Linked DNA regions of Homo sapiens. The protein of the gene in region 6 purifies or fractionates together with the protein of the main gene of each other region. This does not show direct contact. Each region holds a gene or a part of one and is shown on either strand. Other genes may lie near its edges. The genes, in order: NXPH4, ABHD17B, CACNA2D1, COCH, NID2, DEFA1 and COL18A1.

Region 1 (4,055 bases), on a different chromosome or scaffold from region 6:
ACACCTGTGTATGTCTCAGTGTGTGTGTCCACCTCTGTGGGTGTTTGCTCTCTGCCAAGACAAAGAGAGGGTGAGCGCACTGAGCAACTGTCTGGGTGTGCTCGTCTGGGTGCAGGTGTGCTCACCTCTGTTGCTGTGCTCCTCTGTGTGTTGGGGTGCCGCTAGGTGTGCGCCTGTCTCTGTATTTCGCTCTGTGTGCCCTGTCCCCGTGAAGGCATCTGCGTGCATCCCTGGGGTGGGCTCTCAAGGGATGTGTCTGTCTCTCAGTCTCTTTGCTTGTCCCTATCTCTGTCTAGGTGTTGGTCATACCACAACCTCAGCCACAGCCTCAGTGCATAGCAACAGCTGACAGCTGAAACCACCCGGGCAGGAGAGAGAGAGGCAGTGGGGAGGAGGGAACCGAGGAAGAAACAGAGAAGAGGATGGGGGCAGAGAGCTGGGGCTGGGGACAGAGACAAGGACAGAGATAGGGAATGGGGACAAGGATCTAGAAGAGCTGGTGGTGAAAGATGGGACGGCGGGAGGGGAGGAACAGAGACTGCACCAAGAGGCCAGGCAGGCGGCGCTGAGAGGGATTTCCTGCCCAGCCCCCATGCAGAGGCGCACTGGGCCTCGTGGGGGTCAGTGGTGGGGGCCAGGGGCAAAGGTGAACAGCCGGTCTAGCCGAGGGGTCCTGAGACCGCAGAGGTGCGGTGAGGCGGGGACGGGGCGGAGGGCGCCGTTTGTCAGCCCTATTGACAGACGTGATGGGGTTTCCGTCCGTGATCAATGATTCTCATCTCCGGGCCGAATGAGCCGCGGGGCGCCCATCCATCCCCGTCAGCATCGCGCGGCGGCAGCCGCCCGAGGCCCCGCCCGTCCCCACCTCGGCCCCTGCCCTGCGCCTGCCCCGACACACCTTGGCCCTGAACAGGGCAGAGGCCCGGGGCTTGGAGAGCGTCGTCCGGCTGGGCTCCGCGGCGCCCCCACTCCAGGTGCACGGGCCCGGAGCCCAGAGCCCCACGCCCTGCCCCGTTCCTCCTGGGCGCACAGACGCGGCCTCTCGGGGGACCAGTGCCTGAGCCCCTCGACCCCCTCCGCTTCGCACCTGGGCCAGGGGCGTGTCCGGGGCGTGCCGGTGTGAAAGTCACCTTCGGTGCCCCCAGCTGGGCGGGAGGGGGCGCGCGGGGCGCGGCCGGGATTGGAGCGCCGCGGAGCCCCGCCCCCCGCCCGCGGAGTCAGACCCAACTTTCTCCCCCGCCCGCGCCCCGCCCCCAGCGCCGGCTCCGCGCCTCGCGCCCAGTCCGCGGGCCGCGCCGCCGCTCCCGCCGCTCCCGCCGCTCCCGCCGCTCCCGCAGCCGCCCCGCCGCCCGCCCGGAGCCCCGCGTCCCTAGGCCTGGCTCCCGCCTGCCCGAGACCCGCCCAGCCTGCCCCGCTCAGCCGCCAGAGAAGATGCGGCTGCTCCCGGAATGGTTCCTCTTGCTCTTTGGCCCGTGGCTCCTTAGGAAGGTAAGAGTGGCAGGGCTGGGGCGCTAGCGCGGGCGCGGGGTTCCGGGACGCGAAGGTCCCAGTGTGCGAGGGGCTCCGTGCGCCCGCCCCGCCCCCAGCTCCGAGCGTCCCAACTTTGCGCGGCGCGGGGGAAGCGGACAGACAGACTGCCCGATTCAGGACGGGCACTCTCCTAGCGCAAGTTGGCTGAGGCTTGGAGAGGGTGCCGGGCGGAGGTCCCCCTTGCAGCCGACTTCAGGCGCGGCGGGGGAGGGGACGAAGCCCGACCCGCGAGTGCGCCAGACAGAGCGGGAGTGCGAGACAGACAGACAAGCCAGCAGGGTGTCAGCCTTGCCGTCTTTCCGCGCCAGTCTCGCTCGCCTGCCTCACTGTCTGTCTGTCCTTCCACCCCTCCACCCCCGCCTTCCCATTTCTCTTCTCTGCACTTGTCACCATGCCAGGTGGGCTCTGTGTCGGGAGCATCCATGGCCCGAGCACACACGCACACACGGACTCAGGCAGACACGGCTGAACTTGGCTACAGCCAGCCTCCCATCACATTTCCCACGGAGACACCATCTCCCCTGCACGACCTCACAGACACACCCCCCTCTCGTGCCCCACTGAAGGGGGAGGCTGTCTGGAAGGGGAGTCTCTCCTCCCATGCCCTCCCTGCCTCCAACCCCACTCCAAGGCCTCTTTCCCTGAGGCTCTCGGGCGAAGAGCCAGAGGCTAAGGGAGCTCAGACTTGATCTGCCTCCTTCCTGACTTGGAGGCTTCAACCTGCGAACATGCTGTGCTCATATGTGCTGGGTGGAGGGCGTGGGTCACCGTGTGCACCTGTGTGCATGTGTCCAGGGAAGCCAGGCTTGGTCCAGTACTGGGGCCGAGGGTACATGTGTATACTGGTGTGGTGTGTGGTGTTGGCTTTGCATGAGTGAGTGTCAGTGCCTGCCTCACAGTGCAGCCATCTGCCTATGCCCCTGGTGTGTGCCCGCAATGGGGGCCCAGGCCCCAGTCCCCCATTTTCCTTCTACCAGCCTCCCCTGCCTATGGCTTCCCTGTTTTCTGACCCCCAACTGTGACCTACCTAGTTTGGGGGCAGGCAGGTCATTCCCCAAACCCTCATTCTCTGTACCCTCAGCCCCTGTAGAGTCTAGAAGGGGTGTATTTCTTCCCCCAACACTTGGACCTCTGCCTGCTCAGCCAAATCACATTTGGCAAACCCCAGCAGGGCAGGGGCTGCCCCAGTGAAGCTAGCATTAGAGCTCCCTGGCCCTCCCAGCCCCACCTGGTGACCTTGAGGGGCTGCACGGTAGGCAGAGGAGCCCCTCCATGAAAACTGCTTCCACTAGCAGGAGCTTCTTAGGGACTTGCTGCCCAACTCTGTCCTTAGTGAACTGGAGGAGTGGGGGGGGTCTGTGCCCTACCACCCACCCACCCATGTGTGAAGGCCTGGGGTCAAGAGGTGGTAGGTATGGCATTCTCTTGCCCCTCCTTTCCACTTCCTCCCACCTCATCTCCACTCTCCCAGGCAAATAAACTCCCCTGTGGACAGATCTGGTTTAATTTCCTTTGCCCCCTGAGGGGGAATGAAACATCTGGTGGAGACTTGAGTGAGAGTGAGCGTGAGGATATGAGCAATGGGATCTATCTGAGTGTGTGTGTGTGAGCTGCAGCTGTGGGGCCTCCGTGTTGGAGTCAACAGGGAGAGTGGATCTGCTGGTTAGCCCAGCTTATGTGCATGTGAGAATGTGTTTACATGTGTACACACTGCGGGTGTGTGAATATGTATAACTGCACGGGGAGGTGTGGGTATATGAGTGTTTGTGTGTCCAAATACCTGTGTGTGCTTCTGTGCACTTGTGAGTGTGGCGTATGCACATGTATACCCCGGGGTTTCTGGTGCATCTGTGTGCTGGGGCCCATGTGTTGTCTGTATGAGTCTCTGGGGTTTGTGAGTGTGTTTCTGTGTGCTTGTGATTGTGAGTGCATTTGAGTGTGCTATGAGATTGTGAGCCTCAGGATGTGTTTATGTATCTGAGTGTGGCTTATGTGTGTGGGTGCTCAAGGGTGTCTTGGTGCCAGCACTGGGAGTGGGCAAAAGGTGAGGCTGATCCTGGGTAAGAGGTGGCTAGGGGACAGTTTACAGGGCAACTTTTTGGCAACCCTAACCATGAACGGCTGACACCTCTGCCTCTCCCGTCCTGCTTGCTCACCCTCCTCCAGGTTTCTCTCCCTTCCTCCTCACTCCAGGCTTCCCATTTCTCAGAGCCTGGGACTCCTGGCTTCCACTGCCTCTGGGGTTCTGGCCTCTCAGCCAGGGATTCTTGAGGATCTTTCTCATACAGTCTCTGACTCCTTTCCCTCTCTCTCTGTCTCCCCGACCCCTTGCCAAAGCAGCTGCCTACTGGGAGAAGCAGCAGGCGATCAATAGTCACTAATCACTAATCACTAATTACTAATTAGCTGGGGGAGGGCAGGGGCGGGGCCCTGTGGGACCTGCCAGCTCTATCCCGCCTCAGGAAAGGATTAGGTCTGATTCTCTTAGAGCTGGCTGGCCGAAGCCCCTCAGCCAGCTACCCCCT
Region 2 (4,229 bases), on a different chromosome or scaffold from region 6:
AAAAAAAAAAAAAAAAAAAAGGCCACAAACTCACCTTCCCTCTCTCCAACTCACAAGGCTGGATTCGACAGGCAAATGGGGCAATGTATGTGAGAAATTTTAAAGAGTAGGAAGGGTAGGGGGAATTTTCAGAATTAAGAGCAAAACTTTGGATAAATCAGAAGTAAAATCTACCAGTAAATAAACCAACCAATAAAATATACTCTATTTTCTTGTCATCACTGCTTCTAAAGATCTTAACACCAATCTTAATACGGAAGAAATTTTAATTCTTAAATGATGGCATAGGGAGAGTCATTCTCCTTATCTTTATGCTAACTGTTCATCAAATGATTGAAATTCATAATATCAAAACAAAGTAAGAGCACTGCATTAAAAAGTATTCTCATTTAACTTATATCAATGTCACATAACCAGAGTAACTGTTGCTTACATGGTTCTCACTCCCCTTTTTATAAAGTGAGCAGGTGGCACATTTTATCAGCCCTATATTACAGATGGAGAAAACTGACTCAGATGTGGGATAGCGTGCCTGGAGTTGTAGACCAATTCAGTGTCAAACTTGGAACAGACACTAATTGCTTAATTCTTCTGTGTTCATTAAGCTACTAAAAACATTATTTTTTCATGATGTTTTTTGGTGATTTTGTTTGTCCCAGGAAACAGAAAATTCTTTGTCAGCAGTCATTTCATAAACATTTCAAAATGGGCAAAGATACTCAAGGAAACAAGCTACTCATCAACTAGAATACTGCACACTAAGGGACAAAATTAAAACTGCCTAGCCTGCTAAAAATCTAATCCTGTCCTTGCCAATTAACCTTATTAACACTAGAGTAGGAGAAAAGAGAGGTCAAAATATAGGTGAAGGTGCCATTCATTTCCTTCTGGATTTCAAATGATATGACAATTACTGCACAACAGAGATTTTTACCTCTGCTGTTCCTTAAGTAACACGACCCCTATTCTCCAAATAAAAACTTACCAACAAGTTGAGCAGTCTCAAATTAGAATACTAGCAATCATGACAATTTTCAAAATACTGGCTATCATTAGATGTCACCCAACTGAAATTCATGCTATAAACATATGTAGAGAAACTCTTTACGGAAAAAAGTTCATTTTAATGTAAATTTCCCTGTTAATCTAAACAGATTAACGTTATTACAACATGTATCTGGCTTTCTACTCCGACTCATTAGGTATTATAGTTTCATATGTTGGCACAAGATCTCCAAAGATTTATTAGAGGCATAAAAAAATTCCAAATGAATCATCTATAGATCAAGCATCATATATCACAAAAAGTATTAAACAGGAACACATTTCATAAACAGCGAAATTTAAAGGTCACCCTCTGTATTCCGTTATTCATCCTTTTGCTTACCAAATCTACTTCACACTGACTTAAAGCATCATTTACAAAAAATTCTCTTCTGGCATTGGCAGAGATCTCACCAAAGATCAAAGATCTGAACTTTTTTTTTTTTTAAACAAAAACCCCAGGTTAAATACACTCTTTCCTTCACGAGAGCCCCCACACAGTACAATCTAATTTGACATAACTTTGTTTCGGGGTTAAAAAAAATCCCAAACAAAACCTTTAAATTTTCCAATTCAAAAACGATTCCTGATAAGCCTACCTTAGAGTTCGAAAACAAATAAGATTAAAGCCCAACCATCTAAAGAAAAAGAACCCTACGACAGCCCCACCGGAATACACAAATCGCCAAGCCCCGTGCAGATTCAATCTAAAATCGCGCCCGACAGAGATATAAGGACATTCAGGAGAAAGCTTTTAGGCACCCGCGAATCTCTCAGTGCGCCAGTGAGGGGAATGGGAACCTGACCCCATCTTTTCATCCACTGAGAGAAAAGCAAAGGAAATGAAATGGAACCCTTCTCTTCACCGAGGAGGACCAAAGACCTTCTTAGAGTGTCGGTCGGTCCTCCCTCCCCCACCCCCTGACTCCGGCCGCTCCACGGACCGCAGGGACTGTCCTACCGCTCCCCTTCACGCAACCATCAGAGAATCCTCTCAAAAACACAGACCCGATGAGGAGTGGCTTCCCCGCCTTTCCCCTGTGCCGAGAAGGGATCCCGGTCGCCAACAACAAAGACGCTTCCCGCTCCCCTCCCCCCGCCGGCCCGGGCTCGTCCCTCCCGCGCTGCGGCTCCCGGCCTAGCGCCCCCTCCCCGAGCCGGGCTGCGGCGTCCCCAAACCCCGAGGCCGCACGCACCTGCACCTGAGCGGCCCGGGCCGAAGCGCCGGGCAGAAGGGGTCGAGAGAGAACCGCAGCCGACGCGCTGTCCTCCACAAGGCGAGATCCGCGCTCCGGGCGCCGTCCGACTCTCTCCGCCTGCAGACTGGCCCGACAGAGGAGCGGGGACCAGGGCTACAGCCCCCGGCGCCGGGGCGAAGAAGGACGGCGGCGCCCCAGGGGCCCCGCTCACGCTCCCGAGTCTCGCCTCGCGCCGGCCCTGCTCCTCCACAAGAGCTCGCGTTCTGCTGACTAACGGCCCCGGTGCGGGGCGCTGGAGCGGCCGCCGCTGCCCGTCGGTTGCTCTCGGGCCTCACGTCCCGCGCGGCCGTGGTCGCAGCCGCCGCCGCCACCGCCTCCCTTTCTGGCACTGCAGACGCCACCCAGACCTAGCCAGGTCTTCCTTCTCTTTAATCCTGCTTTCTTTGCTCCTCCTCAGCCTGCCAAGCGCGAGGCTCGTTCCGGTAGCGGGAGGAAGACTGGAGGGGAACGGAGGGGACGAGCACAATCCCCACTGAGCCAGGAGTTGGCCACTGACTGGAGGAAGGTGCCAAAGCTGACCCCGGCTCCAGCCTACTAGCGGGCGGGGGGAGAGACGGAGCCCAGCCTTGCCTCACTTCCACCAATCAGAGGCCGCCCGGCAGGGTGGGAGGCGCTCTGAGCTCAAGGAGAGGCTGAGCTCGCTCAGCAGGAGGCGGGGATTGCGGAAAAGAAGAACCAATAGGAACAAAGGTTCCCCGCCCCTTTGATTTGATGGACTACACATTCGGGCCAATGGGGGAATTCTCATTTCGAAGAAAGTGGGACTTGTTCTCCGGGTTTGAGAAAGAGGCTGCGCGGAGCCGGAGGGGTCGAGGCTGCGCCGCGTGGAGTGGCTTGGCTTAACAGCAGGGAGGGCAGAGCGATGCTCTTTGACCTCCCAGAAGAGTCACGTGGGCTGACCCAGAGCCGGGGCGGAAAGGCTGCGTTTGTTTCTTCCGGGTCATTGACAGAAGCGTCAATTCCTGGGAGTAGTTCGTTGGTTTTCTTTCCCCTCATCCTTTTGCCTGCTCCCGGCGAGGGGTGGCTTTGATTTCGGCGATGAGCTCCCAGAAAGGCAACGTGGCTCGTTCCAGACCTCAGAAGCACCAGAATACGTTTAGCTTCAAAAATGACAAGTTCGATAAAAGTGTGCAGACCAAGGTAGGAACCTGCCTGTTGCACCGTCTTTGACTCCAGGAAGGAATGGCTCACTGGAGAGGGGAGAGAGGAAATGAGAGGAGTCGGCTGGGGCGAGTGTGGACCGCAGCCCAGAGTTAGTCTTGGCTGCAGTGCAACTCTTTCTAAAATGTTATTCTCACGCCCTTTCTTTGACCTGGACATGTTGTCTCCTGGTAAATATTTGATGGTCAGCACACTTAACTAATTGCACAGAGTGAACAGGACCCTAATGAAATCTAAGGTGCAGATGGGGCAGTTACGTCGTTCAGCGTTCCCATCTGGATCACATTAGCAGAGGGAAACGAGGATTGTGGCATGAGTGGCTTTTTCAAATTTTACACCAAGTTTATGCAGCTACGATTTTTTTTTCCAAAAACCCCAAGCCCATAGAGGAAATGTGAATGATTAAGCTGTCTTAGGCTGTCCTCACTAGTATTGTGTGAAATTTCTGTTTTGTAACAATTGTTTTGAAGATAAAAATATTTGGTTAATGTAAAAATACTTGTTTTGCTGTTTATCTTTAGCAGGACTTCTGTAAAGTCCTGCTAAAAAATTCAGACTGTCTAGATAGCCAGAGGACTTGGGTTGTATATAAGTACTAATTTGCAGGCCGGGCGCCGTGGCTCAAAGTGCTGTAATCCCAGCACTTTGGGAGGCCGAAGCGGGTGGATCACCTGAGGTCAGGAGTTCGAGAACGACCTGGTCAACATGGCGAAACTCCATCTGTACTAAAAATACAAAAATTAGCCGGGCGTGGTGGCGGGCGCT
Region 3 (2,417 bases), on a different chromosome or scaffold from region 6:
TAAAAGAAGTCCAAAGTCTGATGAAGTACATTCCTAAGTGCCTTGATGGAGAAGGCATGTTAGAAGGTTAGACTTAAGTAAAGGCATCGCGAGTGAATTGACAGTCATCCCTCTGTGCGTGGGGGGGATCAGTTTCAGGATGCCCACGTGTATCAAAATCAATGCATACCCAAGTCAAGTCTGGAAAGTGGCCCCGCAGAATCTGAGTATACAGAAAGTAGGCACCTGGTATATGTGGGTTTTCCATCTTGCAAATACTGTATTTTCAATCTGCATTTGGTTGAAAAAAATCCACATATAAGTATATCCATGTGGTTCAAACATATGTTGTTCAAGGATTGACTGTATTTGTGTGAGTTGAGGTTTGTAATTGTAAAAGCACTATTTAATCCCAACTTTTATTTCCACAATCCAGAATTCTCTCTTAAAATTATTTATGACAGAGCCATCTGTCTCTTCCAACTGGATCTTTTAAAAAGCAGAAAACCCAAACCGCGTGGTGACTTTAAATGATAAACTTTTATTCTGAATATACTGTTTTTGCACAAGATTTAACACAACATTTTCTGGGATTATAAATATTTTATAACAGTATTATACAAATTTTTACAAAATGTTTTTATCAGGCTAGGTAATTTTCACAAAAGTGTCAAGAGAACAAAATAAAGGGGAGAAAAGATCTATTGTTCACAAAAGCCAGTTGGCCTTTTGCATGAATGCACACCATTTTAATAAAAGTATTCCTAAAAGCATGATCCGACACTCATACAACACAACAAAAAAGACAGCTTTACTAGGTCACATTATAAACTCAACTGGCATCTACACAAGACAGTATCCCATTAGTTTCAGTGGAATTTGAGATAACTGTGTGAACTAGAAATAAGGTAGATGAAGAGTTGTCTAATTCTTCAAAAATCTGGAATTTTTTTCAACACTCAAAACATTATATTGGTTTGCTCTTTACAGAAATGTACTGTGAATATTGACATTCTGCTATGGGAAACAATACAAGTTTAGATGAAAAAATATTTAAAATTTTGGGCAAGTGAAATAGTTATTTCATTCTATTCTTTAAAAAAAGTAACAACATCCATTTTGTTTCACTAGGTCAGACTATACCATTAAACATTTGAACGTCTAACATGATCAATGGAATAGATTCAGAGTTTTAAATGAAGACAAAATCTTAAGCTTTGTTGGTCACAGACAAAGATTTAAATGAGATTTAAAATACAAGAGAGCATCAAATAAGCAAGTAACACTTGGGTTGCAAAGGTCACTTAAAAGGGATACTGCCTATTTGAACCCGATAAGTCCAGTTTTAAAGTTAATAAAAGGAATATTATAGGAAAACTTACAAATGGCAGGAACACTGTTTTTTGTTTTTTTTTTTCCCAAGTTAAGCAGTAACACCTCAAGCATTAGAAACATGAAAAAAGATCATACTAAAATCTTATAGGCCCAGGACCTAAAAATCTCTTCAATCAAACTTGCTAACTATGTCATGTTAAAAACCTGTTACAAATATGGACCACGGTTGGTGTTTGGCAGTAATGCTGGTTGTTTAAATGAGGAAAATAAAAAGAAATCATTAATGCAAAATTCTTTCTTGTTACTCAACACCATTGCCAAGCTCACTTGAACTCTGTTTTAGTGACTAACTACACTAAGCCACATGAGTATAACAAAAATTAGTTAAAGCAGTGTATAAACTTTTTTATTGATCTGTTGTACTGTTCAGTCGTTGGAAATCAATATTAATAACAGGCTATAATTTAAGTTCTTGTCAATGTAACTCAGAAAAATACTAAATGTAATGTAATAATTTGATGGGATGAGTGTTACTGTCTTAAAAAATATGCTAAAAGCATGAAGACTAATATTAGTCATGGGAACAACTTTTATTCAGCTTGTTCTTACCCAATTTGTAATTGCATTTATGGTTGTCATAATATATAACTTTATAGCAGAAAATAAAGGTTTATAGCAAAACTCATGCATATAAATATATTTTGATGGCAACAGAAATTAAATAGGATCCTGCCAAGAGATGCCAAGTTTAACCGCGATTAATACAATAACAATGTAATTGATGAAAACATATACTCGACATTAGCCATGAAAATATATTTAATAGATTTTGAACATAATTTTAAGGTAGTTTGTTGTATGCTGGAAGCAATTCAATTGTTTTAATGTGCATTGTTTATATACACAAACTAACAATTTTATATTTTGATACCCCCTTCCCAACACTATCATGATTTAAGATAGTCTAGCAAAAATTGAACAATAACTTTTAAATATTTAACAAACAACATGATTAAAACATTGTTACTAGAGTGAGAAGTTTTTTTCCCCACATATATTTTAAATCACTTTGGTGTTTTCTAAAATGTCAATACCAGTTATGA
Region 4 (3,999 bases), on a different chromosome or scaffold from region 6:
CTAATGTGAAAGTTCTGGGTTTTTATTTCGTTTTTGTTTTTGAAATGGGGACTCGCCAAGTTGCCCAAGCTAGGCTCAAATTCCCGAGCTCAAGTGATCCACCTCCAACTCCCTAGTAGCTGGGATTACAGGTGTGCCACTGTGCCTGGCTTCTCAGTTCTTAACCAGGTTGGAAATACATAATTGGAACTATATCTGAACTAGAAAATAAAAGTCATTTAATATTAATTATAGAAATATAAAAAATCTTGGCTGGGCGTGGTGACTCATGCCTATAATCCCAGCACTTTAGCAGGCCAAGACAAGAGGATTTGCTTGAGTCCAGGAGGTCAAGACCAGTCTGGACAACATAGCAAGACCTCATCTCTTCTAAAAAAAAAAAATTTTTTTTAAATGGCCACACGTGGTGGTGCATGCCTGTACTCTCCGCCACTGGAGAGGCTGAGGTGGGAGGATTGCTTGAGCCCGGGAGTTCAAGCTTGCAATGAGCTATGATTGCATCACTGCACTCCATCCTGGGTTACAGAATAAGATCTTGTCTCCAGAAGAAAAAAAAAAATTTTTAAATCTCAACTTTGATGACGCTATGTACACAGTTGCTTGAGGTAAAGATAGTAAATCTGGATTGAGCCTTTGTGGAACATTTTCATAGACATGTGCACAAATCAAAGCCATCCTTTCCTTCATAGGACCATTTATCCTAGTTAGCCTACAAATGCAGATCCTTAAACTCACACATTAAGGAAGCCAACAAAAAGATGCTTAGATTCACAGAAAGTTATCTAACTTGATTGTTCATTTTATAGATGAGAAAATTAAAGCCGTGGGGTTAATTTGCCCAAACAACATTCTACAACTCCCGAAGGACAGAAAACAGAAAAGTGAATCCCTTCAGAATACAGCATTTTTATCTTAATTGAACCTGATTATTTCTGCTCCAGATCTGTCCAGTGAGATTTATCAAGCAGCGGATGCATTTTTAGAAAGCACTGTTAATATTCTCAAGTTTTACACTGTCAACCTAACAAAGAATCAGTTTTTACTATAAATGATGCTAGGAAGAGACAAGCTCTTGGCAACAAGTAACAAGATAACATAATACAACATGTTAATTTGTGAATTTACTGTCGATACTAAATTGAGATTAATGTTATTAAATGCTATTTTTCAAACATGGGAAGTTGTAGTTATCCAAACCTTTTTAAAACATATATTAATTTTAAAAACCTTTTTTTTCCAAGGCAGAGGAATACTTTCTGGCCATACTGTCCAACTGAGTACCTTGCCTGTGACAAGCACCCTCCTCTGTGCCCTTTGTGGTGACAGGTACCTTACATTCCATGGAAGAGAAGGAAGGATGCAGGCGCAATGCCCATTTCTTAGCTCTGAAGCAGTCTAGAGAGCTGAGAGGTTAAAATCCTTACCCCTAAACAGCCTCATACCTATCATCAAACAGCCTTAATCCTTCCTCCCATTTTCCGCTGAGATGGGGGCGGCATCGGAATCCGGTGCCAAGACCGACCGCCTTTAGTTGCGAACACTGACTTTTGTTAAGTAGAGCGGGAGAAATACAGCCATGAGGGATACTTAACCCTCATTCCTACTTTCAAGGAAAACAAACGGTAGCTCTTAGGAAAGCGTTGCCTTTTACACTGGAAAATACACCAAACCACACACCCATACCCGGACCTCTACACGTGGTACAAACTTTTTAAACTCTCTAGCGTGTAGAGTGAGACCGCGAGTGCTTCTGATTATAGGGGTTACACCTAGAAACATAGCTAGCGAGTCAAACAAGGTGGGACAGCGACGTTCGCCTCCCTCTCTCTCGGCTACGGCAACCTGAAGTCGGGTCTGGGCGGCTTCTCCTCCACCCCCAAACGCAGCAGAGCCCAGGACTGGTGCGCTCCTCGGTGAGGCTCAAGGAGTCCTCCTTCCTCGACCTCCTGCTGCCGGCGCTCAGCGGGCCCGGGGTCTGGGGCTGTGGGTGGGCCTGGAGGAGGCCTTCTTCCTAGTGCTCTTGGAGAACGTCCCCCCACTGGACCCCAGGGGCCCCCTACCATGGGAGAAACAGGTGAGCAGGAGCAGATCGGCTGCAGGGGTTAACGCGGGCGCGCCACGCGGCGGCTCAACCTTCGCGCCTTCCTCCTCAGGCGGTAGGGCTGAAGCCCAAGGGGCTGGATCTGAGTCCCGCTTGTACCCGCTGGTGCTCAGCCCCTGCGACCGCCTGGACGCACCCCAGCTCCCCCACTCACCGGCTCCCTCGCTGCCCGCGGGCCCCGGCAGCAGCAGCAGACACACACCTGCGAAGAGAGAAGCGTGAGGGCTGGCTCCAGCCTCCACCCAGCGGAGCAAGGGGCCGGGGTCGTGAGGGGCGCGCACCCACCGAGGCCGAGAGCCGGGATCCAGGCTGCGGACATGGTGACTGATAGGCTGCTCACACCTGGGAGAGAGGGAGAATGCGGGCAAGGCCAGGGTGCGGGAGGCCCCGCGCGTCACCTCCTCAGAGCCCCGCACCCTTCGGATCCCCGGGCGCGGCGCAGAGGAGAGAGGACACAGACGACCCGCTGCTCCAGGCCAGCGCCCCTCTAGGTCTGGGAGGCGCCTCGGCGGCAAATCGAGCGAAGCCCAGGATCGGTGTGCAACCCCGCACCGCGGGGAGGCGGGGGCGCCAAAACGACGACAGACAGGCTGGGAGCGACAAAGAAACAGGGACAGAGGCGTCAGGGATCCCTCGCACCCGCGCCCGCCGCCCGGGGCTCCGCACCTGCTCGAGATCCACCCGGCTGCGCCCGAGTGCGGAAGGCAAGGCCCCCGCGGCCGCTATAAAGGCTGGGCCGTGCGCATGAGCACTGTGCGGGGGGCGCGGGAGGAAGCGCGGGAGCCGGTCCCCCGGGGCCCGGCGGCGACTTCCAGCTCCGCCTTCGCCCCCTGCCGGCCCCGGGGTGAGGCCGGCGCGGAGGCGCCTCCTCCAGCAGCGCAGGCTCGGCCACCTGGACGCGGCGCCAGTCCCTAGAGGGGCACGAAGGTCCCCGTGCCGGCGTCTCAACGAGTGTGGAGGGCCGGCGGCCCCGACGGCGGCAGCAGCGGCCTCGCCAGCCCTGCTCTGCCGGGACCAGGGCTGCTGAGGCAGCGGCGGCCGCTACCCGCCCCACCCAGCGAGGCCTGGAGCTTCTGAGAGCTGTCAGGTCCACGCGGCCTGAGAACCGAACTTCTCAACTTGGTGCTCTCGTGGAAAGAGTTCCTACTTCTGAAATAAAACCACCCTAGGTTTGGTAAACGCATGCCGCGTTTTTGTTAGAAACCCTGTCAACTGACTGCTAGCTCGTTGGACCTTAGGGATTCGGCCTTGCGCCTTCGTTTCTGCTGGAGTCCTACTTTCCCCAGTGGTTCAATTTGTGCTCCTGCCTAGAGCCACGCGTGTGAGACAGCCCTGACCCCAGCAGCCGGTACCTTTGCTTCTTTCTCACCTCAGGAAGAATTTATGCCTGATTGCCTTTCGAAATTCCCAGACTTGGTGTCTTGTGACTGCACAGAATCTCAGATTTGATAATGTGTTCTCCTTCTCCCCGCACCATCCTGCTAACGTTTTACAAATGGAAATGGAGAAGGAGCAGAATTCTTGAGGAGTGTTAGTGACAGGCGACCTGCATGGCAGCGGAAGAACCAGACCCAGGCCCAGACGCTAACCTTTCTGGTACAATATAAACTTTTTCAAATAGCCTTATTTAGTTACAATTTACATGCCATAAAATCCATCCGTTTTGAGTGTACAGTTCAATGATGTTTAGTAAATTTTCAGAGCTGTACAACCATCACCACAAGCCAATTTCAGAACAGGTTCATCCTCCCCAAAATGATCTCCTCGCCATTGTCAGTCAGTCTCTTCTCCCACTCCTAGTCCTAGGCAATCACTAACCTATTTCCTGTCTCTATAGATTTTTCTTAGTGGTCGTTTCTTATAGATGGGATTATACATTGTGCGGCTTCCTTCACTGC
Region 5 (3,500 bases), on a different chromosome or scaffold from region 6:
TCACCTCCTAGCTTGGTAGAAAAGCAAAATCACGGACCCCACCCCAGGCCTGCTGAACCAGAATTTACATTTTGACAAGACCTCCAAGTGATGTGTGTGCAGGTTCAAGTCTGGGGTGCACCGGCCTATACTATTATAGGTTGTGGAGCTGGGAGGAGAAGAGCACCCCTTCCCCATGAAGTAAAATCATCCCCAGGTGCCCCAAGTACCATTTTTGCATTTGACAGATCTGTGCATAATTTAAAAAGCCTGACAAATATGCTGCAACAAATTGGGGTAAGAGGACACAAATGTTCTGAATGGAATCATCCTGTTTCTCAGAACAGCTGGGAGAACATTTAGACGAAATCACTGCCTTTCAAAAATCAGTGATGTGAGGTCAAACCATTCCCAACAACCTGTGGCCAGAAAACTACACACATGTGGCTCTAGTACATTAAACAAGTGATTCCTCTGTCACTGCGTAAAGGCCTAAAGACAGTGCCCCAAGGAGCACCACTGCCAAAGCAATGCTGACTACCGGCCTTCTCAGAGGCCCTACTCACCTGCGAGGCTGAAGCCGTTCTCAGAGCCAGGTTTTTCTAAAGCAAAGAGCCAGCCAAACAGGCCTCCAATTGGTGTGAGGGGGAGGAGGGCCTGGGCTGCTGGCTGTGGGATGTGGCTGATGGCCGTGTAGGCTCTGCCATCATTGCCCACGATATACGCATGCAGGTCCACATCAGTGAAGTGCACGGGTGTATGGCCCACGTGGAGGTGGCCACTCACTTTCCCATTCACTCGGTGAGGTGCCCCTAAAAGACAGCAAATCCAGTTAGGCTTGGACGTCATCCTGGCTAGAGATGGGTGTACCCAGGTATAATTATTCCACTGACAACTTCCAAAACTCACTCTTTAGCAAGTCACTTTAATGATTTCCTAACCAACCAATTATCCATCTATGAAACAGTCCTGCCTCCAGTCTGTTTTCTCCCCTCCTCCTTCTACTCCACTACACTTTGGCTCTAATGAGCTGGCAGAAGGAAGCATTTCTGGATAATCCTCAAATTGGGAATCAGCCCAAACCAGTTCATTCCTCACACATTTATTGAGCACCTGCAAGTTGATAGCACTCTGATTTAAGTAGTGGAGATGTTTGGTCCATAAAGCAGAGCTCACAGTGGTAGCTGGAAACAGGTAAGCAGCAGGAATAGACACACAGGAGTTCCTGGCCCCAGTCAATTACCTTCAGGCAGACAGTGCTTCCCATTTCCATAAAACTTGGATTGGCAGTGGCAGCAGAAGCCAGTGGCATAGTCCGTGCAGAAGGCATGCCGGGAGCATTGTCTGTGGTTGTGTTCACAGGTTTCCTTGTTGGCAGCATTATACGTGAAGACTGAAAAATAAAACAAACTTGCCTTAAAAGGACTAAATGATTCCAATGTCACTGCTGCATCGGGGACACAACATCTGCTCCATAGAAGCAGTTTAGATCATAACAAACAGTTTTTGATGTTTAAGAGACCGGCATAACATTCAACCCAAGGGAATTAATCTGCTTTGTCTGCTGGCAAGAAGAATTGCTTACTGCTCCCGGCTGGGTCCCATTGCAGAGTTGGTGAACTAAGATGAGACTGCACCCGTGGGTTTGAGTGCAGTAAAATGAAAGCAAACCAGTAAGTACATGTTAGGTTGAACTTCATGAAACCACTATTTTTGTGGGTCAAAAAGGGCTAAATATCAGCACTTTTATATGGTTCAACCTAAACACATCCTGAGAGGAAGACATAATAGAGAAGCTAACAAATGTCTTATGTCTAACCATCCTTCTTTTAGGGAACACTGAACTTAAAAAAGATAATAGCTGGTCTCGCTACCAAGATTGTTTTGAGGGAAGGGTCTTAAAGAACACACGCACCTACCTCAAAGAAAAGGCATGGGGAGAAGGGGACAGAGGAGGGCAAAACAACAGGGATTCAAGCTATTAAAATGCCCTATGCCCTTGGCAGGGTTTAACTATGATGGGTATGGTACAAGCATGATTTCCACGCAGTAGCAGACAGCTTGGGCCCCACTCGCAGATCTTCCAAGAAATTATGGAGGACTAGGATAAATTCAGTGCTCTGGCAGCTGTTTCTTCCATTTCCTACTTATTCTGCCCATTAAAAGAAGAGGGCCATCTGTGCTGCAAAGAAATGGGGAAACTGGAGCAAATGCCATAGTTCATAAAGGAAATAGCCAAGGGGGTAGGGTGTGGCGGGGGTTGTGGATGGACAGGAGGGTGCTTTCTCCGGGGCACTAGGAAATATGCCAATCCCAAGCATGGCCACCAGGAGGCCAAGCGGCTGCACACACCTCTGCCTCCACATCCCCAGGAGGTGGAGTTGGCTGGAGACTCCAGGAGCATGCTGTTGAGCAGGGATGGCATGGAATTCTAGTGTGAGACACGGATGCTGGCATGAAGGAGGACACCCACCCTACTCTTAGGAAAAACCAAGTGGTAGTTGTGTTCCAGGTCTATCTGGAAACGAGGAGACAGGAGGGGAGGAAGAAATCCAAAGATCAATCTTTACCCAGTATTCCCAGGGAGAACAGAAAGTAAAGGAGCTAATGAGACATAGCATTATAGGTACAATGTCACCAAGATAAAGACCTCCATCAGCAAATAAAAATATAACAAAGTTAACACTTCAATCGCGCTTAACATATACAAGCTTTACATTTAACAACCTTTTTTTTTTTTTTTTTTTTTGAAACGGAGTCTCGCTCTGTCGCCCAGGCTGGAGTGCAGTGGCACGATCACAGCTCACTGCAAGCTCCACCTCCCAGGTTCACGCCATTCTCTTGCCTCAGCCTCCTGAGTAGCTGGGACTACAGGCACCCACCACCACGCCTGACTAATTTTTTGTATTTTTTAGTAGAGACAGGGTTTCACCATGTTAGCCAGGATGGTCCTGATCTCCTGACCTCGTGATCCACCTGCCTCGGCCTCCCAAAGTGCTGGGATAACAGGCGTGAGCCACCCCGCCCGGCCAACAACTCTTAATTTGCACAACAACCCTAGGTAGCAGGGACTTTTTTTTGTTGCTGTTGTTGAGACAGGGTTTTGCTCTGTCACCCAAGCTGGAGAGCAGTGGTGCCATCTCGGCTCACTGAAAGCTCGACTTCCCAGGCTCAAGTGATCCTCCTATTTCAGCCTTTTGAGTAGCCGCAGCCACAAGCATGCATCACACCTGCCTACTTTATTTTTTGGTAGGGTGGGTTGGGGGGAGGGGTCTCCCTGCGTTGCCCAGGTTGGTCTCGGTCTCGAACTCCTGGGCTCAAGTGATCTTCCCACCTAGGCCTCCCAAAATGCTGGGATTACAGGTATGAGCCACCACTCTGGCCAGGGACAATTTTTTAACCCGTTTGCAGATAAAGCTGAGGCACAGTAGACTAAAGCACCTGAAGTCGCATAGGCAGTGAGTGGCAAAGGTGGGAACCGAACCTAGGACATCTAGCTGGAGAATCTTAACTGCTACTCT
Region 6 (4,254 bases):
ATGAAACTCCAATTCTTTAGCACAGAGGATGGTTTTTTTTTCCCGGAGAAGTAATGATTTTGTGACTGCATGAAATGTAAGCTGACACCGATTGTTTGCCCAGCACACGCGAGCTCTTTGAGAGTGGATCCAGAGAAAATGAGGCAGGGTGAAAAGGCAGAGCAGTGGGTGGGGAAATCAGTGGTGTCATATGGGCCTTCTTTTCAATTTGGATCTGAAGCCCAAACTCCTGCTTGAAATTCCTAGAATTTGGAATTTTATATTGTTCAAAAATTTGATTTTGCGTTTTGGTACGTGTATCCCAAGTGTCTTGACACAGACACATATCACACATTAAAGAGGTGGAAACACAGAAATCTTGTAACAAGGCATTTATTTGGGATGAGGAAAGGAAATTGAGCAGAAGGTACAGGAGTAATAGCAATTCCCTGTAGCTCTCAAAGCAAATTTTGAGCTCATTTTTCTTTTTCTGCAAGCTCAGCAGCAGAATGCCCAGAGTCTTCCCTGGTAGATGCAGGTTCCATAGCGACGTTCTCCTGCAATGCACGCTGGTATTCTGCAATAGCAGGCCATGTTTTTCCTTGAGCCTGGGACAGGGAGAGCATGAGAAATTGAGTATGGAGTTAGCAGTGGGTAAGAAAAAGAATCTCGGGGAAGTCACATGCTAGCTGACAGGTGATGCTGGCTGCATTGCAGCCGTTAGCACGAACAACCTCAGTCGATAGGAATAAACACGCAGAGCAGTGCTTGTCACTCAGAATTTGAGACTCATTCTCCTTTGCTCTCATTTTTGCATTCCTGCCCCATCACACACACACCTGAACATATCCTCAGGCTTGGCTGCAGTTTTTAAAAGCTCTTCTGTAGATAGAGTAAAATGTTCTCTTTACAACTAAGTCTACTTGTTTAGATCCAGAAATAACTAGTCTGTCTCTTCATATCTGAAACTTAGTGAATTTCACAGACGTTTCTTGGAATCAAGTCTTTGGAGAAATAAAGTTTCTCATGTTTATTTGGCTCTCTGTTCAATTTCTAGATGAGAAAATCAATGCCCAGAGATTCTAAGTGAAGCCACCTCAGTGACATAGACTGCTGAGACCCAACTCTGGAACCTCTCTCCCGTCCTTCCCTCTAGACTTAGCAGCTCTGCATGCCTGCCTCTCTCACCTGGATGCTTTGGAGCCAAGCTTTCGTCCCATGCAAGGGAAACAACCACTTCTGGGATGTCCGCTGCAATCTGCTCCGGGGCTGCAGCAACCTCATCAGCTCTTGCCTGGAGTGGCTCAGCCTGGGCCTGCAGGGCCACCAGGAGAATGGCAGCAAGGATGGCGAGGGTCCTCATGGCTGGGGTCACCTGGAGGAGGGAGAGCAGGAGCAGCTGTGTGGGGAGGGAGGAGCCAGCCTGGATTTATAGCTCTACTGGGAGAAGGCTCGGAGACAAGAAACCTTCCTCAATCTCAGTGAGAGGAGGTGTGCATTTTATAAGAGAGGCCCATTGGTCTCAAGGTTGCTCGAATGCTCCTGTTCTCCCAGTTTCATGCTAGTATACATCTGTACCTTTAATGTCTGTGCTAGGTTGGAGCTAATAATGACAAGAAAGACCCTGCTATGTTACTCGTGGGTTCACCTGCTTAAATATTATGATTCACTTTTTAACATTCCAAAAAGAATAGAAATTGCACTTTGATTCAACAGGCTCAGGGAACAAATGCTTCTTATTTTCTGAAGATGGGTCCTGCTGTTCTCTGGAGGTCTAGATTCTGGTGTCCTATATGAGTTCCAATGGAATAGCGAGTAATTCACTTCAGGATTCAGGTGACTTACCATCCTCATGAAGAGGTTTTTGAGGTTATGGGGTGAGTAGTCTCCTGTAGGAATCAGGGTGGAGAGGACAATGATTTTATCAGGCTAAAGGTGAAATCAGCTCAGTGACACAGAGTGGTTTAAGTAAAAAAAAGAAAGTTTATTATTTCCACCTCTACTTAGACTTGAGTAACAATTAACAATTGTATATTTATAGTGTACACTACCTCATGATTTTATATATGTATGTATTTAAATCTTTATCTCACACCATGTAGAAACATCAACTCAGAATGAATTGAAAACCTAAATGTAACAACTGAAACCATAAACTACTAGAAGTGTATAGAAGGATAAAGCTTTTGACATTGATGTAGGTAATGATTTCTTGGCTATGACACCAAAGGCACAGGCAATAAAAGGGAAAATAGACAAGTGTGGCTTCATTTAACGCTAAAGCATCTGCACAGCAAAGGAAACAATCAACCGAGTGAAAAGATAACCCAGAAAATGAGAGAAAATATTTGCAAAACCTACATGGCCGAAGGGGCAAATATCTGAATACATAAGGAATTCCAACAACTCAATAGCAAAAATCAAACAACCTGATTGAAAAACAGACCAAGGACCTAAATAGGTTTCTCTCAAAAGAATGTTCCAAAGACCTGTGATAGTCTCTACTGGACATGTCAACCAGGACATGTGACATGTGTGTTTAGAAGGAAACTGCTTGAGTTTCTCTATTAAGTTAGCTGGAAGCCATCGTCCCCAGCAGTCACCAGAGGTCCGGACAGACGTTCCTAGCAGGGATTCGCCCGCTGGTTCCCTCTGGGGTGGCCCCACAGTCAGAGGTCAGATTGGAGGCATAGCTTCAATAATGAAAACTCAGTGTAAAGTTTAAGTTTTGTAGTACTTACAGATCCTCTAGCTAGGCAGGGTGACCAGAGAGGGCAGACAGCAGTCCTCTGTCCCAGGTCTTCTATAGCAAGGAGCAGCCGTGCACAAGTGGACTTCCCCTATTTAAAGGTCTTTTGGGATGAGGTGTCCTAATTTCCGGGGTTACTTTCTGTTGGGTCCATTAAATAATTGTGGTGGCAAGGACAGTTGAGAAATTTGGTGGGAAGGTGAGGTTAAAGTAGAACTCCACAGAGGAACCTCTCATCTACCTTGGTCAGCCCTGGCCAGGCCCAGGCAGCAACCAACTATGGATTCTCAATGGCTCCTAACACAGTTGACCCTGTGATGCATTGGCTGTGGCTAAGCTGAACTACCTGCACCAAGGGAATATTTAAGGCCTCTGGGACAGCCTGGCTGCGTATCACAGTATACGCCCTGCAAAGAGATTGGGATAGGAATGCCACCTGCACACAGAGGAGGATTTGGAATGTGTTTCTAAAGCAGTGTCCCGAGGACCTGGGGTCTAACCATAAAAACTAATGAAAGCCATTTGGCTGAGCTGGGATGTTGGAGAACACCCAGGTGAGACTGAGTGCTACCTGGGCTTCTGTTGCTATGTGGAACAGACATTTTTGGGTTCTCCTGAGTACTGGATGTACACGCGGCATGTGGTTCCCCAGAGGTGACTATCACCTGTTTGCTTGGCCAATGAACAGTTTAAGCTTAAACAATTGTCTAGGATCATCTGGGCCAAGAACTGGTCTGAGGCATTAGCCATCAGGGTGGGAGTGGCCTTTCCAGATGGCCACCCAAGAAAGGAGGTGGGAGTCTGGGCATTCACTTTACTGCTGGTGTTGCACAGCCTCTCAGGCCTTGTGGGCCTTCAGAGAAGCATTCAGCAAAAGCTTGAGTGGTGCTTTCTGGGAGGCATAGGAGTTTCCATCCTTCACTGGTACACATCGGAGAACAGGTGTATCCCTGAGCCCATGATCATGTCTGGATGCTTTCTGTGAATGCAATGCTCCAACTCTTCAGGCTGCAGTCTGGGTGTGTGCTGCGGCGTCATGAGCCCATTTGGATTGAAGCCTGTGCATCCAGAGAACTACCTCCTCATCCTTAAAACACGATCTGTGGTTGTGAGGGCTGCTGGTGTTTAAGCATTGGTGCCATGGGACCCATTCAATATCTAAGGGTTGAGTTGCCCGCCTTGGACACAGGTCAGGTTGTATCTGGGGTGCAGCCCCTGTAACAGGGCTTACAGGGAATTCCCCAGTTTTCCAGTCTGGGGTACAAATTCTGACTAGGGCTGTCCTGTTCCAGCAGCCCTCTAGGCTGCCAGGCCTGGGTTAAACAGCTACCCCACAAGCCATTTGTACATAAGATACCAAGCAAGGCCAATCATAGAGAACACTGACATCTTGTCACTCAGGGCTTTCTTCCCAGTGCTTCTATATTGACACTGATGATGGGGTTGGCTGGCACCCACTTTTCCTTGGAGCCTTTCTCCCCCATGGCCACGTTTGGTGATGGCACTTCCATATGGTCTTTGCCTGA
Region 7 (3,500 bases), on a different chromosome or scaffold from region 6:
GCCTGCTGCACGCCACCCACGCCCAGCAGCACAAGGCCCGTAGTGCGCCACCCAGGCCCAGCAGCACACGGCCCGTAGCGCGCCACCCAGGCCCAGCAGCACAAGGCCCGTAGCGCGCCACCCACACCCAGCAGCACAAGCCCGTAGCACGCCACCCAGGCCCAGCAGCACGAAGCCTGTAGCGCGCCACCCACGCCCAGCAGCACACGGCCTGCTGCACGCCACCCACGCCCAGCAGGGCCCCAGCCCAGGGCCAGACCCAGGGCCCTCTAGCTCCCTCCTGTTCCAGCTCTCTGACCTTCCAAGGTTTCACTGGGCTGTTGTAAGTCATGGTGTCTTCTCCAGGCCAGATTTAACCACATAAACACATCAAATCCCAGCTGGGTGCAGTGGCTCACGCCTGTAATCCCAGCACTTTGAGAGGCTTAGGCGGGTGGATCACCTGAGGTCGGGAGTTCGAGACCAGCCTGACCAATATGGTGAAACCCCGTCTCTACTAAAAATACAAAAATTAGCTAGGCATGGTGGCAGGTGCCTGTAATCCCAGCTACTTGGGAGGCTGAGGCAGAAGAATCGCATGAACCTGGGAGGCAGAGGTTGCAGTGAGCCGAGATCACCCCATTGCACTCCAGCCTGAGCAACAGAGCGAGATTCCATCTAAAAAAAAAAAAACAAAAAAAAAACCCACAAAAAAACCACACATCCAATCCCAATAGTCAAAAAAAAAAAAAAAAAAAAAGACAAGGTAAAAAGGCAAATGACATGGTAGAAATAAAATCTGCAGCATGCAAAACCAAAGAGAAGTTTCTTTTAAAGATAAGGAGTTTGTATAAATCACTGAGAGTTGGGCCCATTGAAAACCACAAAGAACATAAACCGGTCAGTCACAAAGGAAGAAATACAAACAGACAATAAACAAGTGACAAAATGAAAGTCTATCTTCACAGTCCAAGAAATGCAAAATTAAACACCCAGACCCCCTCTTCCTACACACGGGACTTCGCTGATGAGGAGGCCCTCACCGCAGGGCGGTGGCCCGGCTCTCCCTAGCACCATCGGGGCACAGCTGTGCACCCACGTACCGAGCTCTCGGCACTCAGCCGCTTTTCCTAACAGTGTTAAAGATGTACGGCACTTGTGGGCCACTTTATTCCACCAAGAAACGGCTGGGGACTCACACAACAAATTGCCTCTCACTGGAGGGGGTGACTCTGACTTCTTTCCCGGTAATCATGTTTGTGATCAAGAGGAAAACAAAGAGGCCCAGTTTGGTGTCAACGTCCTAGCGGCTCCTGAGCTCTGAGGGTTAAAAGTTCCTGCCAAAGGTGAAAAGTCAGCTTTCAGAACCCCCAGACACCAGGACTTAGAACAACTTCAAACAAACAGCCCTTGTCTGGGCAATAATTAACCTTCTGTCCCCTGCGGCCCGCCAGGGCAGGGGCGTCCAGCTGCAGGCCAGCTTGAATGCTAGAATTCAGGGACTTGTGAGACAGTGCCAGCTGAGGTCACCCACGTGGCTGTTCCCAGCCAAAGGTTCCCAGAAATGCAGGGGCTTTGGACACAGACCCCACATGGGTTTAGGGATCTGTCCACCCCCCCAACCCCAAGAAATGAAGGCCCACTGGAGGGACTTCCCGGAGACTCAGGTGGAGGCGGCCACGTGCGTTCACCGCTGGGGGACTCCCACCACGTGCTCCAAAGTGGAGTCTCACAGGCGTGGGTTGCTGCACCCTTTGTTAAAGGTGCTGACCTGCAGGGCCGCCCTGAGCCCCTGGTCCCAGCGGGTGTGCAGCTACCACAGGAGAACCCTGCTGGGATCAACACCCTGCTGCCGCCAGCTTTGGATCGTTCATCGTTTTCAACAAGGACCCCAGCTTTCATTCTGCATGGGGCCACGAGGCGTGTGGCTGGGCCTGGACTCGGTCCCCACTTACCCGACCGGCCGGTCAGAGGCCGGGAGCCCCACTTCACCACAGGGCTTGGCACAGGCCTGGGGGTGTCTCTGGGTCACGGGGTCACGGCTGGGGTGGATGTCTAGTTACAAAGTCGTTCAAAGAGGGCCCTCCTGGGCTGGGCCTCGGGGTCTCAGAGAAACCATGGAAGCCCAGGGCTACCCTTCCTGGGGGCGCAGGAGCCAGAGAGCCAAGAAAGTGAATGCCACCCCAGCCAGGCCGGCCAAGAACCCGGGAGGCCTGCGCCGGAGGCCAGGGCTGAGCAGCCAAGAACCCAGGAGGCCTGCGCTGGAGGCCCGGGCTGACCACAGCTGGGGTGGGGGCTCTCCTCTTCCGGCCACAGCTCCGTCCCTGTCCCAGTGGCCACCCCCACCCCACCCCATCCCAGCTGCTCCAGTCCCCCAGCGACGGCACAGTGGGGGTTACCTGGAACTTGTCAGGGTCCGCTCCCCCCGCCTGAGCCACGAAGAGCCCGGCGCCAGGCTCCAGCTCCAGGCCCCGTGAGGACCGAGCAAGCGGCATTCTCTGGAACTCCTCACAGTCCACGTAGAGGGCCACAAAGCCACCTGCCACACTGAGGGCTAAGTGTGTCCACTGGCCGACGAAGGCGGGGAGCCGGAAGCTGGCGGCTGTGTGGGTCTGGCCTGCACCTGGTTCTGTGTAGAGCAGGGAGATGTCCTGGTGCCCGTCCTGCACCCCAGAGAGCTTCACGCCCAGCAAGACCATGGCCTGCGCCGAGTCCGTGATGGCGAACAGCACCCCTGGGCCCTCTGTGGCTGGCCGGATGTGGAACAGCAGTGAGAAGTCACGGAAGAAGAGGCTGGGGAAGTGGTACCGGGCCACTTGGCCACTGTTGGCATCTGGCCCAAAGACGTAGGCCAGCCCGACGTCGGGGTCATCCGTCTGGGTGACCTGCTGGGGCGGGGGGTCCCCAAGGAGCTGCAGCAGCCCCACCTCCTCGCTGATGCGCTCTGCAAAAAGAAAGACAGCTGGTGAGGTGGCTGTGCAGGACGGAACCAGGGGCCACCGACGCGGCCTGGAGAGGCAGCCAGGCAGGGGCAGAAAGGAGAAACTGAGTCTGGGAGGGCTCTCCACGTGCCTGGCAGCCTGCCCTGATCCCCTGGGCTCAGCCACCCAACGGCCACCCTGGTTCACTCATTCCCAAACGACAGGCAGGCTCCATGCAGAAACCTGTGTGCAGGGGACATGGTGTCTGCAGGAGACATGGTGTCTGCACGGGACATGGTGTCCACAGGCCCCCTTCCATGCTTTGAGCAGGGATGGGCACAGCAGACATGGTGTCCACAGGCTTCCCCTTCCATGCTTTGAGCATTGATGGGCAGAGCCAGTGGGGAGAAGGGACCAGGGACTGGCCGGCACCCCCGCTGGGGCAAGGAGCTGTGAGGGGCTGGGGCTGGCAGCCTTCCCGCCCGGCCCTGTGCCCTGCCCGCCCACTCTGACCCTGCTGGAGCAGCCCAGGCCGGCACCCCAGCCTGGCCTCCACTGTGAAGCCACAGTTCCACCACAGGGAAGGAGGGAGGCTGACCC

What was found.
Region 1: the proteins of DEFA1 (region 6) and NXPH4 purify together in Homo sapiens (affinity purification with mass spectrometry, with the first as the bait; 2 studies listed by BioGRID). This does not show direct contact.
Region 2: the proteins of DEFA1 (region 6) and ABHD17B purify together in Homo sapiens (affinity purification with mass spectrometry, with the first as the bait; 2 studies listed by BioGRID). This does not show direct contact.
Region 3: the proteins of DEFA1 (region 6) and CACNA2D1 purify together in Homo sapiens (affinity purification with mass spectrometry, with the first as the bait; 2 studies listed by BioGRID). This does not show direct contact.
Region 4: the proteins of DEFA1 (region 6) and COCH purify together in Homo sapiens (affinity purification with mass spectrometry, with the first as the bait; 2 studies listed by BioGRID). This does not show direct contact.
Region 5: the proteins of DEFA1 (region 6) and NID2 purify together in Homo sapiens (affinity purification with mass spectrometry, with the first as the bait; 2 studies listed by BioGRID). This does not show direct contact.
Region 7: the proteins of DEFA1 (region 6) and COL18A1 purify together in Homo sapiens (affinity purification with mass spectrometry, with the first as the bait; 2 studies listed by BioGRID). This does not show direct contact.

What each region holds. Positions count from the first base shown.
Region 1 is NC_000012.12:57,215,539-57,219,593, forward strand, and holds the start of NXPH4 (neurexophilin-4 precursor), read left to right. Parts: upstream 1-1,255; 5' UTR 1,256-1,431; coding exon 1,432-1,488; intron 1,489-4,055. UniProt on the Homo sapiens protein: May be signaling molecules that resemble neuropeptides and that act by binding to alpha-neurexins and possibly other receptors.
Region 2 is NC_000009.12:71,908,394-71,912,622, forward strand, and holds the start of ABHD17B (alpha/beta hydrolase domain-containing protein 17B), read right to left. Parts: upstream 2,801-4,229; 5' UTR 2,241-2,800; intron 2,124-2,240; exon of another isoform or gene 1-2,123. Other genes in the region: uncharacterized protein C9orf85, read left to right, coding at 3,342-3,443. UniProt on the Homo sapiens protein: Hydrolyzes fatty acids from S-acylated cysteine residues in proteins. Has depalmitoylating activity towards DLG4/PSD95. Has depalmitoylating activity towards GAP43. Has depalmitoylating activity towards MAP6. Has depalmitoylating activity towards NRAS.
Region 3 is NC_000007.14:81,945,944-81,948,360, forward strand, and holds the end of CACNA2D1 (voltage-dependent calcium channel subunit alpha-2/delta-1 isoform 1 preproprotein), read right to left. Parts: 3' UTR 501-2,417; downstream 1-500. UniProt on the Homo sapiens protein: The alpha-2/delta subunit of voltage-dependent calcium channels regulates calcium current density and activation/inactivation kinetics of the calcium channel. Plays an important role in excitation-contraction coupling.
Region 4 is NC_000014.9:30,873,360-30,877,358, reverse strand, and holds the start of COCH (cochlin isoform b precursor), read right to left. Parts: upstream 2,801-3,999; 5' UTR 2,768-2,800; exon of another isoform or gene 2,444-2,767; 5' UTR 2,421-2,443; coding exon 2,387-2,420; intron 2,304-2,386; coding exon 2,256-2,303; coding exon of another isoform or gene 2,061-2,255; intron 1,181-2,060; exon of another isoform or gene 807-1,180; intron 1-806. UniProt on the Homo sapiens protein: Plays a role in the control of cell shape and motility in the trabecular meshwork.
Region 5 is NC_000014.9:52,041,560-52,045,059, forward strand, and holds part of NID2 (nidogen-2 precursor), read right to left. Parts: intron 1,373-3,500; coding exon 1,223-1,372; intron 792-1,222; coding exon 546-791; intron 1-545.
Region 6 is NC_000008.11:6,977,293-6,981,546, forward strand, and holds DEFA1 (neutrophil defensin 1 preproprotein), read right to left. Parts: upstream 2,801-4,254; 5' UTR 2,721-2,800; intron 1,869-2,720; exon of another isoform or gene 1,834-1,868; coding exon of another isoform or gene 1,825-1,833; intron 1,355-1,824; coding exon of another isoform or gene 1,343-1,354; coding exon 1,168-1,342; exon of another isoform or gene 1,037-1,167; intron 588-1,036; coding exon 478-587; 3' UTR 357-477; downstream 1-356.
Region 7 is NC_000021.9:45,467,665-45,471,164, reverse strand, and holds part of COL18A1 (collagen alpha-1(XVIII) chain isoform 4 preproprotein), read right to left. Parts: intron 2,924-3,500; coding exon 2,379-2,923; intron 1-2,378. UniProt on the Homo sapiens protein: Probably plays a major role in determining the retinal structure as well as in the closure of the neural tube.